Homo sapiens: one gene and its partners. The protein of the gene in region 3 interacts with the protein of the main gene of each other region in a biochemical or structural test. Each region holds a gene or a part of one and is shown on either strand. Other genes may lie near its edges.

Region 1 (4,051 bases), on a different chromosome or scaffold from region 3:
ATCTGATTTGAGTCTGTTTGAGTAGAAACATTCCATAGAAGCATCGAAGTCATTCAGAATAAAGTGTTAGCTCCAGCAGAAATCTACATGTTTCATTTTTATTCCTATTTGTGGAATAAAACATTTTTTCCTCAATAAAGGGATTCTAGGTATCCCCTAGTATGTGGATCTGATTTTTGAGGGAGGTGTCATTTGCTACAATAGGCATACTCAGCTGGTTCTGAACAAAGTCTTCTTAGCAGAGCTTGTAAGGGGACTGGGCAGAAGGCATGGCTTCTTCATCCCCGCTCCCTGCTCCCCTAAAAAGGAATGTGCCTGGAATCATGAAGAGAAGACTGTTAAGAGTAAGAGACAAGGAGCTGTTACCATCAGCAGCTGTCGAAGTCGGTATCCTGTCTTGCCTGAGCACTGATCTGCTTGTCAGCCCTCTCTGTCCCAGCCAAAGCTCTGTATAGGCACAGTGAGATACCGCTTCACACCCACTAGGATGGCTAGAATAAAAAAGTCAGATAAGGCCGGGCGCGGTGGCTCATGCCTATAATCCCACCACTTTGGGAGGTGGAGGCAGGCAGGTCACCTGAGGTCAGGAGTTCCAGACCAGCCTGGCCAACATGGTGAAACCCCATCTCTACTAAAAATACAAAATTAGCCAGGTGTGGTGGCACATGCCGGTAATCCAAACTACTTGGGAGGCTGAGGCAGGAGAATCATTTGAACTCAGGAGGCAGAGGTTGCAGTGAGCCGAGATCACGCCATTACACTCTAGCCTGGGCAACAAAGCAAAACTCCGTCTCAAAAAAAAAAAAAAAAAAAAAAAGGCAGATAATAGCAAGTGTTAGCAAGGATGTGGAGAAACTGGGACCTTAATATGCTGCTGGTGGGAATGTAAAATGGAGTAACTGCTTTGTGAAATAATCTAGAAGTCCTTCAGAAGGTTAGACATAGTTATTATATGACCCAGAAATTCCACACCTAGGTATACACCCAAGAGCCCTGAACATATCATATGTCCACATAAAAACCTGTATATGATGATCCTTTTGATGTGTTCACACACGCGTGTGTGAGGTGAGCCACCCTCGAACCTTGTTATGACATTGGCACATTACCCATCTGACACGAAAAAAGAAAAAAAAACCTTGTATATGGATATGCATAGAGGCATTATTCATAAAATCCAAAAGTTGGAAACATCCCAAATGTCCATCAGCTGGTGTAAGCAGAAACAAATTGTGGAATATCTATACGGTGAAATAGTATTTGGCCATAACAAGGAATAAAGTACTGACACGTGCTACAACATGGGTAAACCCTGAAAACATGCTAAGTGAAAGAAGCCATAAACGAAAGACCACAGATTATAAATTCCATTCACATGAAATATCCAGAATAGGGAAATCTAAGAGGCAGAAAGTAGATTTTGATTTCTTAAGGCTGAGAGATGGGGATGAAGAGGTTGGGGTGGGGAGGCGATAGCTAAAGGGTACAGGGTTTCTTTTTGAGGCAATGAAAATATATATGTAACATATCAGTTGCATACTAAAACTCGCTGAACTATAGACTTTAAATGGATGAATTTTACAGCATATGAATTATAACTCAATAAAGCTGTTGAAAGCTGATTGCAACAAAACAGAACATCTTAACTCCAGTACTTCAGCTAAACTGAATCCAATTCAACTCTGGCTGTCCAAGAATGACGAGGAATGCGTTATGCTTCCTGGCTTATTTGACTTAACTTCATACATTCGTAGGGACCATGGTTAATTGCCTTCTGCTTCCTGTACCAATTCTAGGTCTGACTTTGACAAGGTGTGAGCAGTTGGGTAGGTATCATCTTCATTAACAAAGGCACCATGATAACTTCAAAGTCTGAAAACTCCCAAGTGCAATAACTCTATCCTCAGAGTGGGCCTTCTCCACCTCTTTCCCAGGCAGAGGGATGAGTGACACGTTTTAATGAGCTTCACTGAAAAGAAGCCTCAACAAGTTCTCTCAATATTAAAACACTTTCTTTTTATTTTATTTCTTTTTTAGAACATTTCACAAGACGAGCCCTCCCTACACAGTGACACAATTTGGACCTCAACTTTACTTATCTTTTGCTAGCCTCCATCTCCCCCCTTGAATATTTCCTTTCCATTCATCCTTTGTCATATGAAATAATAACATCTACAGATAGAGATCTTTCTTTTCCATCATACTTCCTATTACTGACAATTATTCATACCAAGTTTGGAAAGAGATACATTTGTTACTGAAGATCATAAAATCCTGGACAAAAATATCCTTGGGATTTAGCTCCGTAGCTACACTTATGTTACATTCTCCATCTCTCCCACCCTCACCCCCATTAATTATATATTAAGGATAGTGTTTCCTTTGAAGAACACATTACAGAAGAATGATCTGGATAGTACTCTCTTAATTACGCCAATCACAAAACACAAAACCATGTCCAGAGAGGGTTATTTTACTTACCAAAAGGATCAACGCTGTTACATACACGCCCACGTGGGCAGTAGTCCTTGGGACAGAGATACAGCAAATGAGTGATAGTGGCACGCCTATGAGCGGTGAAGGAGGTCCCAGAGACCCTCCGGTCCTCAACAATCAGTCTCTTTCTGTTCGAGCCCCTGGCACTGGTTCTCTCAGATGAGGTGACTTTGCTTTTCTCAGAGCTGCACAATTTCCCCAGACACTTTAGACCAAGGAAGGCAGGCATCTTGGCATGGATTTCCAAGCAATGAGAAATGGGGAGTGGGGACCCAAGGAGCGGTGCTGCCCCACAATTCTCTCTGTTCCCCTGGCTCCTTACTGTCTCCTTTTCTCACTGCCCAGCAAAGAAGATTAAGGGAGATGTATTTAAGTGATTACCCTCAAGAGCTTAGGGCACCATATTCTCAGTCAGATGACTAGGTATAAAAACAGCCACTACCAGGAACTCGAGACTTTCAGTCTCAGACATGAATGCATATTTGAAAATCAGATTAATATCCAGAATAAGAGAAAGAATATAACTGCAATATCTAAAAGAATTCTCCTGCAAATACTCCTAGAATATTCAGTATCATCTGGTAAGAGTACTGAGAATAGGGCTAGGGATATATACACATATTTTATATAATCTAAAAATGTCTATCAGAAAAATCCCAGGGTAATAATTCCAAGTTTTCCAGTATTTCAGATCTCACAGGTGGAGGTGGGGAAGGCTCGATAAAGATCCTCAGCTTCAATTCGTGACAAATCCAGCTCTCAGCCATAGTAAACGATCATTTCCTTTCCATTTTCTAGAAGGGGACCCCTCCCCTCAGTACCAGGAAAATCCTTCTGCCTCATTCCATTAAGCCAATGTTTACTGTCGTAATGTTTCATGGGTTTTCTGTGATGGCAGAATCATATGATGGAGACAGAATTAACATGTAGGTAGCTTCAGCTTTACACAAAGTTACAAGCTAGAAGGACCTTCATGGAATTAGTGTATTGATATAAAAAGGACAACCCCAGTAATTATCATTTACTCTTTAACATCCACACAGTAAGATGCAGTACAAAATGTGACCGTCTACAACCATACAAAAGTCCCAAGTCAAAATGAATAAACTCACACTCCTTCTCCTGTCATTGGGCTATTATGTTCTAATATAAATTCCTTTTCATTAAAACCCTAGAATAGAATTATAGAGCTGACAAGGCCATCAAAGGTAATCTAGTCCAGTAGTTCCCAAATATTGCTGTGCATAAGAACCATCTGCAGGTGCGGTTGCTCACGTCTGTAATCCTAGCACTTTGGGAGGCTGAGGTGGGAGGATTGCTTGAGGCCACTTCGAGACCAGCCCTGGCAACATAGCAAGACTCTGTCTCTACAGAAAAAAAAAAAAAAATTAAAACATTGGCCAAGTGTGGTGTCATGCATCTGTAGTCCCAGCTACTCGGGAGGCTGAGGCAGGAGGATTGGTTGAGTCCAGGAGTTTGAGGTTACAGTGAGCTATGATTGTGCCACTGTACTCCTAGGTGACCGGGCAAGACTCTGTCTCAAAACAAAAAATCT
Region 2 (3,500 bases), on a different chromosome or scaffold from region 3:
TCCTCTGTGTTTGAAAATGTTCTGTATTGATACAAAAATTAGCCGGGCATGGTGGTGTGCACCTGTAGTCCCAGCTACTCAGGAGGCTGAGGCAGGAGAGTCACTTGAACACAGGAGGTGGAGGTTGCAGTGAGCCAAGATGGTGCCACTGCACTCCAGGCTAGGCAACAGAGCAAGACTCCGAACCCCCCCCCCAAAAAAAAAGAAAAAAGAAAATGTTCTCTATGTGTCCATTGGGCCAGTTGTGTTAATCCATATATATTCATACTGTTTTTTTTTGTTGTTGTTGTTGTTTTGTTTTGTTTTGTTTTGTTTTGTCTGTTCTGTTACTGAGAGGCATATGTTAAATCTCCCACTGTGATTATGGATTTGTCTATTTTTCCTTGAATATCTGTTCAATTTTTGCTTTATTTATGTTGCAACATAGTTAATAGTAACATATCTACTCAAGTGCTCCCCTACAGCTCTCCTCCCAACATATACAAAGGCATGTCATCAGTTTAAAACAGCCCTGGCCGGGTGCAGTGGCTCATGCATGTAATCCCTGTACTTTGGAAGGCCAAGGTGGGTAGATCACGAGGTCAGGAGTTCGAGAACAGCTTGACCAACATAGTGAAACTCCGTCTCTACTAAAAATACAAAAAATTAGCCAGGCATGGTAGCAGGTGCCTGTAATCCTAGCTACTCAGGAGGCTGAGGCAGGGGAATCGCTTGAACCCAGGAGGCGGAGGTTGCAGCGAGCCAAGATCCTACCACTGCACACCAGCCAGGACAACAGTGCAAGACTTCGTCCCCCCCCCCCCAAAAAAAAAACAGCCCTCAGTCTCCCTTTTTCCTTGCTTTTTGTTATTGTAGTGGTGATTATTTCTTAGATTCCATGTTTCCCTCTTTGTGTTATCCAGGCTGGTTTTGGGGAGTGAGCAGGAGTGCCAATTCAACATCTAGGCAGGAGAATCTTTCACTTTCTAAAGGTTGAGAAGTGAAAAAAATGAATTTCTTAATATTTTAAACAATATTCTAGAAAAAAAGTTTTTCAGTTAGCATGTGCATTATTCAGAGTTTAAATGTTGGTATGTAAAAACCCTAGTCTATCAGATAGATTCTTTTGAATAATTATATCATCCTATCACTTAAAAAGGATCCCTCTTGGGTTCTACATTAGCCAATCTAGCAATTGAGGAAAAAATCAAAGTGTGTAGACTCTGTACCTCAGGAATTTACAACCGGGGGCAAAAGGCTAAGATTTGTAAAACAGGAAGTAAAAACGCCCATGCCTGGCATGGTGGCTCACGCATGTAATTCCAGCACTTTGGGGGGCGCTGAGGTGGGTGGATCATTTGAGCCCAGGAGTTCAAGACCAGCCTGAGCAACATGGTGAAACTCTGTCTCTACAAAACATATAAAAATTAGCCAGGCATGGTGGCACACGCCTGTAGTCCCAGCTACTTGGGTGGCTGAAGTGAGAGGATCACTTGAAGCCTGGGAGGCAGAGGTTGCAGTGAGCCAAGATCACACCACTGGCACTCCAGCCAGTGCGACAGAGCGAGACCCCATCGCTTTAAAAAAAAAAAAAATCTAGTGTAAATATTGCAGAATAGAATGTTCCTCAGAGTTTAGAAGAAAGATCATTGGGGGTTAGAGGCCTCAGAAATGGGCTCATAGAAGAAGTAGGGCTGGCCCTGAAACACTGGGTAAGATTTTGATCGCTTGAAAGAGGAGAAAAAAACATCATTTGAGATGGAAGGAACATGATAAAGGCAGAGACTTTATGTTTAACAACTCTAAAAATGATAATGAAAGTTTAATATATAATACAGGCCTCTCAAAACCAAGGTTAGGTGTTTCCATCGTACCTTTTGACCTTTTGATGGGTATAATTATATACAAATGAATAAATGATAATAATAGTTGATGTTTATTGAATACTTATTCTCTATCAGGCTCTGTTTTAAGTTTAGTCATTTAATTATAACAGCTTAGAATGTAAATATAGTCATTATTCTTTCTCTTCTAGATGAGGAAATTAAGGTACCAAAAGATTACAAACAAACTTGCCCGGAGTAATTAGTAAGTGTAGAGCCAGCATTCATACCCAGGCAGCCTGGCTCCAGAGTTTATTTGTATTTCCTATCTAAAAATGTGATTGTAATTTTTATGATATATTTTCAATTTATGAACCATTCTCAAAAAGCATAGACTTTGTTGTATCTATTGGCTGGCTCATATTTTTGAAACATGTTTAATTTTTTTTTAAGACCAAACTGGAAATCCAGAAGGCCCTTGCAGAAGATGCTACTGTGTATGAATATGACAGTATTTATGATGAAATGCAGAAAAAAAAGGAGGAAAATAATCCCAAATTGCTTTTGGGGAAAGACAGAAAGGTTTGTAAGCTGAAATAACAAACTTTCTTTGACCTTGACCTACATTTTGTGTCTTAATCTTATTTTAACATGAGAATGATCTGAGAAAAAGCTTTTAGGTATGTGAGGTGTGAAGAGTCCCTAATTCCAGATATTACAAATTTGATTGTAGAACTCAAGCAGCACTACATATTATCCTAATAGGCCAGGTGAATTATCTAACAATTTTGCTTTTTGCTTTGAAACCTTTGCAAATAGTTTTTTGAAAACTTTTCCTTGGAATTCTAATGTACCAAATTTGTACTGTTCCTGCCCTGTGTATGTTTATTTGTGTTTTATTACCCTCTCATTTTTTCATTTCTTCCTAGCTGGTAACTGAATCATCTGCCTGCACCTATCATGATTTTATTTTCAGTGAGAAAAAAATTTGGGAGGGGTAAAAACTGAAATAAGTTCAGATTTTCTTTCTATCAACTCTTGTTCTTTCACAAGCACAGGCTGATTTTTAAGGGCATTTGCATCTGACAGTTATCTACTAGTAGAGTGATGGTATAAAATTATATTAAGCTACTATTTTAAATAGTCATATTTCTACTAAATGTGAAAAACTAGCAGGAACTTTTCTGATTTTTTTTTAATTAAGATAATACCAGAAAAAAGAAAAAAATTATATTTAGTTTGATGTTTTATTAAAGTTAAATCGCATTATAAACAATTTCTATCTCTGCTACACCTAAATTTTTATGGAAAACAGTTTCAATATTAATCTTGCTAGTAAGTTTATATTGAATGTAGGGAAGACAATCTTATTTGGGCCAATCATTTCTATCTTAATGAATTCATTATAAAAATTATAATATTAACAATTACTATTTTTTTACTCTTTTCCTAAATCTTTTTTATTTCCTTAGCCCAAGTATATTCACAACTTGCTAAAAGCAGTTGAGATCAGAAAAAAGGAACAGGAAAAAAGAATGGAAAAGAAAATACAGAGAGAACGAGAAATGGAAAAGGGGGAGTTTGATGATAAAGAAGCATTTGTGACATCTGCATATAAGAAAAAACTGCAAGAGAGAGCTGAAGAAGAAGAAAGAGAAAAGAGGGCTGCTGCACTGGAAGGTAAAATGAAAGAGTGGG
Region 3 (3,500 bases):
AGTCTCCTTAGCTTCCAAGATCAGATGAGGTCGGATGTGTTCAGGATGGTGTGGCCGTAACAAGCCATGCCTAATCCCGTAGCAGCTGGAGTGCCCTGGCCCTGTGCCCCGTGAGAATGCACCAGTCCCCTGGATCCTGGCTGGCTATCTACACACCTATCTCCCATAGACCTAGACACCTGCCTAGGGGCCCTCCTCTCACCCTGGCCCAGTATTGAGCAATTAGGGTTGGGGGATCCCAGTCACCCAGAGGAGGCACAGGGACCTGAACATTAAAACAAACAATGCGAACTAACAGAGGCAGTCGTATTTTGAATATCATTACCAAATTTGAAAAAAAAAAATGACAATGCCTATGGAAACCACACAAAGTGTGTTTGGCACTATCTATGATTTGGAAATTATCAAAGCCCACAGTCCTCGTAGAGGGCAGGGCGGTGGGGAGCAGGGTCCCCCGATATTGGTGGTCTGAGCACTTTCTTATCACTGCACAAACGCAAGGCAACTTAACAGTTTTGGGGGCAGATTGGCCATAAGTTTACCCGGAGCTGACACGGCGAAGTCAGTATCGGGACCAAAGGCCACATCAACCAGGTGTAATCTCCAGTCCAACAGGCCAGAAGCCACCTGAACACTGAGATCCACGTGGGGAACCAAGTGGCAGGCTGGCTCTGGCATCCCCAGGGATCTGGTGTGAACTCTGGCCCTGGGCACGTCACTCCATCGCTCTCAGCCAGCCTCAGTTTCCTTCTCCAAGAAGTGGGGATAATAACAGACCCTGGCAGATGAGCCTTGGGAGGCTTAATACATGTGAGATGCTTAATTCCTGGCATAGAGTCGGCCCTAGCACAGTCTCTAGCACATAGCGCTTAACAAAGGTGTTGTTATTATTCAGGACAGACGTATCAGACAAACTGATGGTGGGCTGGGAGTGGGGGTCTCCTGGGGAGAATCGTCTCCAGGCCGGCAGCAGCCTTTGGATCTCTGAGGGTCACAGATATTCAGCAGGGGACATTCCAGGGAGAAAGATCTGGGCTCAACTGAAAAGCACTTCTCTTTTTCTTTTCTTTTTTTTTTTTTTTTTTTGAGACAGGGTCTCACTCTGTCACCCAGGCTGGAGTGCAGTGGTGCAATGTTGGCTCACTGCAACCTCCACCTCCTGGGTTCAAGCGATTCTCCTGCCTCAGCCTCCCAAGTACAGCTGGGATTACAGGCATGCGCCACTATGCCTAGCTAATTTTTGTATTTTTATTTTATTTTTATTTTTTTATTTTTTATTTTTTTGAGACAGAGTCTCACTCTGTCACCAGGCCAGAGTGCAGTGGCACAATCTCAAGCTCACTGCAACCTCCAACTCACTGGTTCAAGCAATTCTCCTGCCTCAGCCTCCCAAGTAGCTGGGATTACAGGCGCTCACCACCACGCCCAACTAATTTTTGTATTTTTAGTAGAGATGGGGTTTCACCATGTTGGCCAGAATGGTCTCGATCTCCTGACCTCGTGATCTACCCGCCTCGGCCTCCTAAAGTGCTGGAATTACAGGCGTGAGCCACTGTGGCTGGCCCAAGAAGCACTTTTCAAAGTCCAAGCTCCCTAGAGAGGAGCTGCATTCTTCTGAGATTCTGTGAGGTCTCCATCATTGGAGGTGCATAAGCAACACTCACCTGGTCCCCCCCACCCATCTGGCTCTTCTCTACTCAGCTCTTCCCACCTGAGTCTTCTGGTGGCACCCAAAAGACTGCCCTGATCCAGACCCTGCCCCTAGAAATGCCACCTCTTATGGGCCCTGTGAGATGCCCACATCACTCTCTTGGCAGGGGGCCTAACGAGGACTCAGCCACTGCCCCAGGGACAGCCACAAGGAAGGCACCCCTCACCCCATCTGCCTTGGAGCTTCCTCTGAGCCCCCACCCGACCCTGCCATGGGACACTCACCGTTGGGAACTCCAGGAAGAGGACATGGACTTCAAGGATGGCATTGGGGGCCTGAGCCACGCAGCCCTTCGAGACCTGGCTAGTGGTATATGTCACCTCGCCCCTCTCGGGGCCCACAGGCTGAAGGTCACAATGGACTGTTTCTGCAAGACCTGTTGGAGAAACATCCGGAAAGAGGCCAGGTGAGAATAAGGTGATGACAATGACTCCTACTTTCCAAACGTCTCCTAGGGACTTGACATGAGCTAACGGCTTTCCTGCATCATCACAGCCACCTTATGAGGTGGATATCATTATATTCGTTCCATGGATTAAAAAAAACCAAGGCTAGGAGAGGAAACGTCTCCTGCCCAAGGTCACAGCGCTACTACGTATAGGGTCGATGAATAGAAGGACACCCAGCTAAATTTAAATTTCAGATAAACAATGAGTGCATTTTTTTAAGTATTAGTATATTGCAAATATTGCATGGAACGTACTTATACTAAATTTTCATTGTTTATCTGAAATTCGGATTTCACTGGGCCCCATGTATATATGTGTGTGTGTATATATACATACACACACATATACATAGATCTACATATATACATACATATATACATATATAGATATACATATATACACCCACACATCCACATACATATATATATATATATATATTTTTTTTTTTTTTTTTTTTTTTTTTTTTTTTTGAGATGGAGTTTTGCTCTTCTTGCCCAGGCTGGAGTGCAATGGTGTGATCTTGGCTCACCGCAACCTCCGCCTCCTGGGTTCAAATGATTCTCCTGCCTCAGCCTCCCAAGTAGCTGGGATTATAGGCATGCACCACCACACCCAGCTAATTTTGTATTTTTAGTAGCGATGGGGTTTCTCCATGTTGCTCAGGTTGGTCTCGAACTCCTGGCCTCAGGTGATCTGCCCACTTCGGCCTCCCAAAGTGCTGGGATTACAGGCGTGAGCCACCGTGCCCGGCCAGCCTCCTATATTTTTATTTTTTATTTATTTTTAAAAATTATTTTTTATTATTTATTTTATTTTATTTTTTTGAGACGGAGTTTTGCTCTTGTTGCCCAGGCTGGAGTGCAACAGTGTGATCTCGACTTACTGCAACCTCTGCCTCCTGGGTTCAAGTGATTCTCCTGCCTCAGCCTCCCGAGCAGCTAGGATTACAGGCATGCACCACCATGCCTGGCTAATTTTTTGTATTTTTAGTAAAGATGGGGCTTCTCCATGTTGGTCAGGCTCGTCTTGAACTCCCAACCTCAGGTGATCCGCCTGCCTTGGCCTCCCAAAGTGCTAGGATTACAGGCATGAGCCACTGCGCCTGGCCTATTTTTTATTTTTTTGAGACAGACTCTGCTCTGTTGCTCAGGCTGGAGTGCAGTGGCAAAATCATAGCTCACTGCAGCCTCAGCCTCAACCTCCCAGGCTCAAGTGATCCTCCCACCTCGGCCTCCTGAGTAGCTGGAACTATAGGCATGCACCACCACATCCAGCTAATTTTTGCATTTTTATAGAGATGAGGTTTCACCATGTTGCTCAAGCTGGTATTGAACTCCTGG
Region 4 (3,500 bases), on a different chromosome or scaffold from region 3:
CCAAGACAACAATCCCTGAGAGCTCCCTGACTGCCCCTGCTCACTGCCTAGATTCCCAGGCAATGGGGGATGGGTAAGACAGCACTGAGATTCTGAGACCAAGACAGAGAGAAATCACGGAACTGAGTATCAGAGAGGACACAGCCACACAGAGCCACGCAGAGCAAGCTGAAGAGACCCACAGAGGGTTCCTCCCACCCAGTGCACACGTGTGCGAGGAAACCAGAGGCTGGGACAGCACCACCCATAAGGAGCAGAGGGAACAATCAGGAGCAGAGGGAACAACCACTGGAGGGGCACTCAGGGCCACAAATGGTTTGCTCTTCCCAATAGCCAGGGTGGAAAGGCTGGTAATTCACGGGCCATCAGACCCACTACTCAGAGGGCACTGCCCAGTGGTGAGACAAAATCAGCCCAAACTGAAGGCTACTTTGGCCCTGCCTTAGTGTGTGTCCAGTACCTCAGCTGTGTCCCAGAAAAAAGCTCAAGGGTATTTGTAGAGATACAAGTATAACTAGCACCCAAAAAATACAATTCACAACATCCAGTAAAAAATTACCAGGCACAGGCTGGGCACAGTGGCTCATGCCTGTAATCCCAGCACTTTGTGAGGCCAAGGCAGGTAGATCACTTGAGGCCAGGTGTTCAAAACCAGCCTGGGCAACACAGAGAAACCACATCTGTACCAAAAATTTTAAAAATTAGCTGGGTGTAGTGGTACATGCCTGTGGTCTCAGCTACTCAGGAGGCTGAGGTGAGAGGATCGCTTGAGCCCGGGAGCTCGAGGCTGCAGTGAGCACCACTGTACTCCAGCCTGGGTGACACAGTGAGATCCTGTCTCTAAGGGAAAACAAAACAAAACAAAAAAACCAGAAGAAACTTAAAAGCAGCCACAGAAAAAGAGAGAGAAAAGACACAAATTGGTAACTGAAGGAACAAAGATTAAATTAACCTAGAATTCTATACCCAGTGAAAATTTATTTCAAAATGAAGACAAAGTAAAGACTTTTTCTGACATGCAAAAGAAACAAGAACGTATCACCAGCAAACCTGCACTACAGGAAACATTCAATTCCTTCAGGAGGGAGGAAGATGATCTCCGATGGGAACTTGGATATACAACAAAAAGCAACGAAGAGCACCTGGTGAGGTGAACATGATTTTTTCCTGTCATTTCTGGGTCTCTTTAAAATATAACTGTTTGGCTGGGCGTGGTGGCTCACGCCTGTAATCTCAGCACTTTGGGAGGCCGAGGTGGGAGGATCACGAGGTCAGGAGATCAAGACCATCCTGACTAACACAGTGAAACCCCATCTCTACTTAAAATACAAAAAATTAGCCAGGCCTGGTGGCGGGCACCTGTAGTTCCAGCTACTTGGGAGGCTGAGGCAGGAGAATGGCATGAACCCAGGAGGCAGAGCTTGCAGTGAGCCGAGATCGCGCCACTGCACTCCAGCCTAGGCGACAGAGCGAGACTCCGTCTCAAAAACAAACAAAAACAAAAACAAAAACAAAAAAAAACACAACTGTTCAAAGCAAAAAAGCCAAACCACAACAAGTCAAAGCCAATAAAATATTGGGTGACTTCTTAAAGAGAAGTAAACCGTATGACAATAACATCACAAAGATCGACGGGAGGGGAAATGCAAGTATATTCCCACAGAGTTCTTGCACTACGCTGAAACCAACAGAGCACCCCTTGCAGACAGACTGTAAGGGAAGATGTGTACTGTAATCCTACAGTAAACCACAATGACACAGAGTTAGAGCAAATAAGCCATCAGTCATAAAAAGGACTCGACCCACAAGAAGGCAGATAAATGGGAAAAAGAGATCAATAAACAAACATGAACAGAAAATAGAGAACAAGACAGTAGATCTAACGCCAAGCCCACCACCACTGGCGCGCAGAGTAAACATTTCCCCGGGACACAGGAGTCCTGGTCTCTGCCCTATCTCTGACTCAGGGCATCAACCTAAGCAAGGCATTCCCCGTCTCTGGACCTCATGGCCCCAACTGTGAAATGACAAGGTGGAACCCACAAGCTTGAGGTTCCCATCTGACGTCCTTGGTTTTGACCACACAAATGGAGGAGTCAAGGCTCTGCCTGAATCTGTCCAGGGCCAAAGGGACAGAAGACTCTCCTGAGAGAAACACAGATGCCACTTCCCATTCTACCTTCCCATCAAATTAATCATCCTTACAAGTATATCTCTTCTGATGACAGACAAAACCCAAATGAGAGCAGGCACCATACTAAGCTTGTATGTCCCTATCCCTGAGCTATGCCATCCGCCCTGGAGGCTCTGCATACTTCAGTCAAGTAGCTGAGTGGTGTCCTGCCCCTCTGGCCTTCCTACGTCCTTCTGTTTTTGTCCAGAGCTGAGCCCCACAGGTAAGGCCAACTCTGTCACTCACGCCTCAGCTGAATGTCACTTCTTCAGCGAGCTCTGCTGAAGCTGCCTCCCAAATCTAAACACGGCCTCCCCAACACACTGACGGCGTGCTCTAATATTCCTTAATACGCTCATCACAACACATCATATGTGTTTATTTCTTAAATGGTCTTTTTCCCGCCAGACTAAAAAATCTGTGATGACAGTGACCACGTATGTTTACCTCTGCTTAATCATCAGTGTCCGAGTGAAGTCAACAAAGTAACTGAATAAACAGGTTATTCATGGCTATAAGAATTTCCTAAGCCCTTGCTGAACACACAGACTGTTCAGAGAAAAATTGAACAGCACGCTTTCTCCGGGTCCTGTCCGCTTCTTAAGCAATGAAACATTAACCAACACCTGATCGGGTGACACAGACCTAGACAAAGGAACGGCTTCTGTAGCCAGAAAACTGTGTCAGACAGGGCCCACTCTGCCTGGAATCAGGGCACCCTCCAGACACTAAATGGTCCGAACCTTGTCCCTTGGAAGCCACTCCCCAGAGGCACCCAGGAGACCAGGGCAGTGCCAATTGCTTACCAGAAGACTCTTGGCTAGGCGCGGTGGCTCACGCCTGTAATCCCAGCATTTTGGGAGGCCAAGCAGGCAGATCACATAGGTCAGGAGTTGGAGACCAGTCTGGCCAACATGGCGAAACCCCATCTCTACTGAAAATACAAAAATTAGCCAGGCATGGTGGTGGGTGCCTGTAATCCCAGCTACTCGAGAAGCTAAGGCACGAGAATCACTTGAACCTGGGAGGGAGGCGGAGGCTGCAGTGAGCCAAGATCACACCACTGCACTTCAGCCTGGGCAACAGAGCGAGACGCAGTCTCAAAAAAAAAAAAAAAAAAAAAAAGAACAACAAACAAACAAAAAAAGAAGACTCTTAATTAATTTCAAACAGTGGAATCATTTTAAATTGTCCTCACCTTCCTTTGGAAAGCTGCTGAATTGTACTATTTTTCTCCCACCCCCATGAGCAGCATCTTAGTGATTTATTTTTGAACCACGATCATGTTCTAGTTATGAGACTATATACTTAAAATGCTAAATGATAT

The links.
Region 1: the proteins of ENG (region 3) and ABLIM1 interact on a protein array, tested with the Homo sapiens proteins (one large-scale study listed by IntAct).
Region 2: the proteins of ENG (region 3) and NSRP1 interact on a protein array, tested with the Homo sapiens proteins (one large-scale study listed by IntAct).
Region 4: the proteins of ENG (region 3) and SAFB2 interact on a protein array, tested with the Homo sapiens proteins (one large-scale study listed by IntAct).

The regions. Positions count from the first base shown.
Region 1 is NC_000010.11:114,655,476-114,659,526, forward strand, and holds the start of ABLIM1 (actin-binding LIM protein 1), read right to left. Parts: upstream 2,801-4,051; 5' UTR 2,726-2,800; coding exon 2,482-2,725; intron 1,120-2,481; exon of another isoform or gene 1,020-1,119; intron 1-1,019. UniProt on the Homo sapiens protein: May act as scaffold protein. May play a role in the development of the retina. Has been suggested to play a role in axon guidance.
Region 2 is NC_000017.11:30,175,816-30,179,315, forward strand, and holds part of NSRP1 (nuclear speckle splicing regulatory protein 1), read left to right. Parts: intron 1-2,255; coding exon 2,256-2,384; intron 2,385-3,274; coding exon 3,275-3,482; intron 3,483-3,500. UniProt on the Homo sapiens protein: RNA-binding protein that mediates pre-mRNA alternative splicing regulation.
Region 3 is NC_000009.12:127,841,159-127,844,658, forward strand, and holds part of ENG (endoglin isoform 1 precursor), read right to left. Parts: intron 2,088-3,500; coding exon 1,936-2,087; intron 1-1,935. UniProt on the Homo sapiens protein: Vascular endothelium glycoprotein that plays an important role in the regulation of angiogenesis. Required for normal structure and integrity of adult vasculature. Regulates the migration of vascular endothelial cells.
Region 4 is NC_000019.10:5,605,777-5,609,276, forward strand, and holds part of SAFB2 (scaffold attachment factor B2), read right to left. Parts: intron 1-3,500. UniProt on the Homo sapiens protein: Binds to scaffold/matrix attachment region (S/MAR) DNA. Can function as an estrogen receptor corepressor and can also inhibit cell proliferation.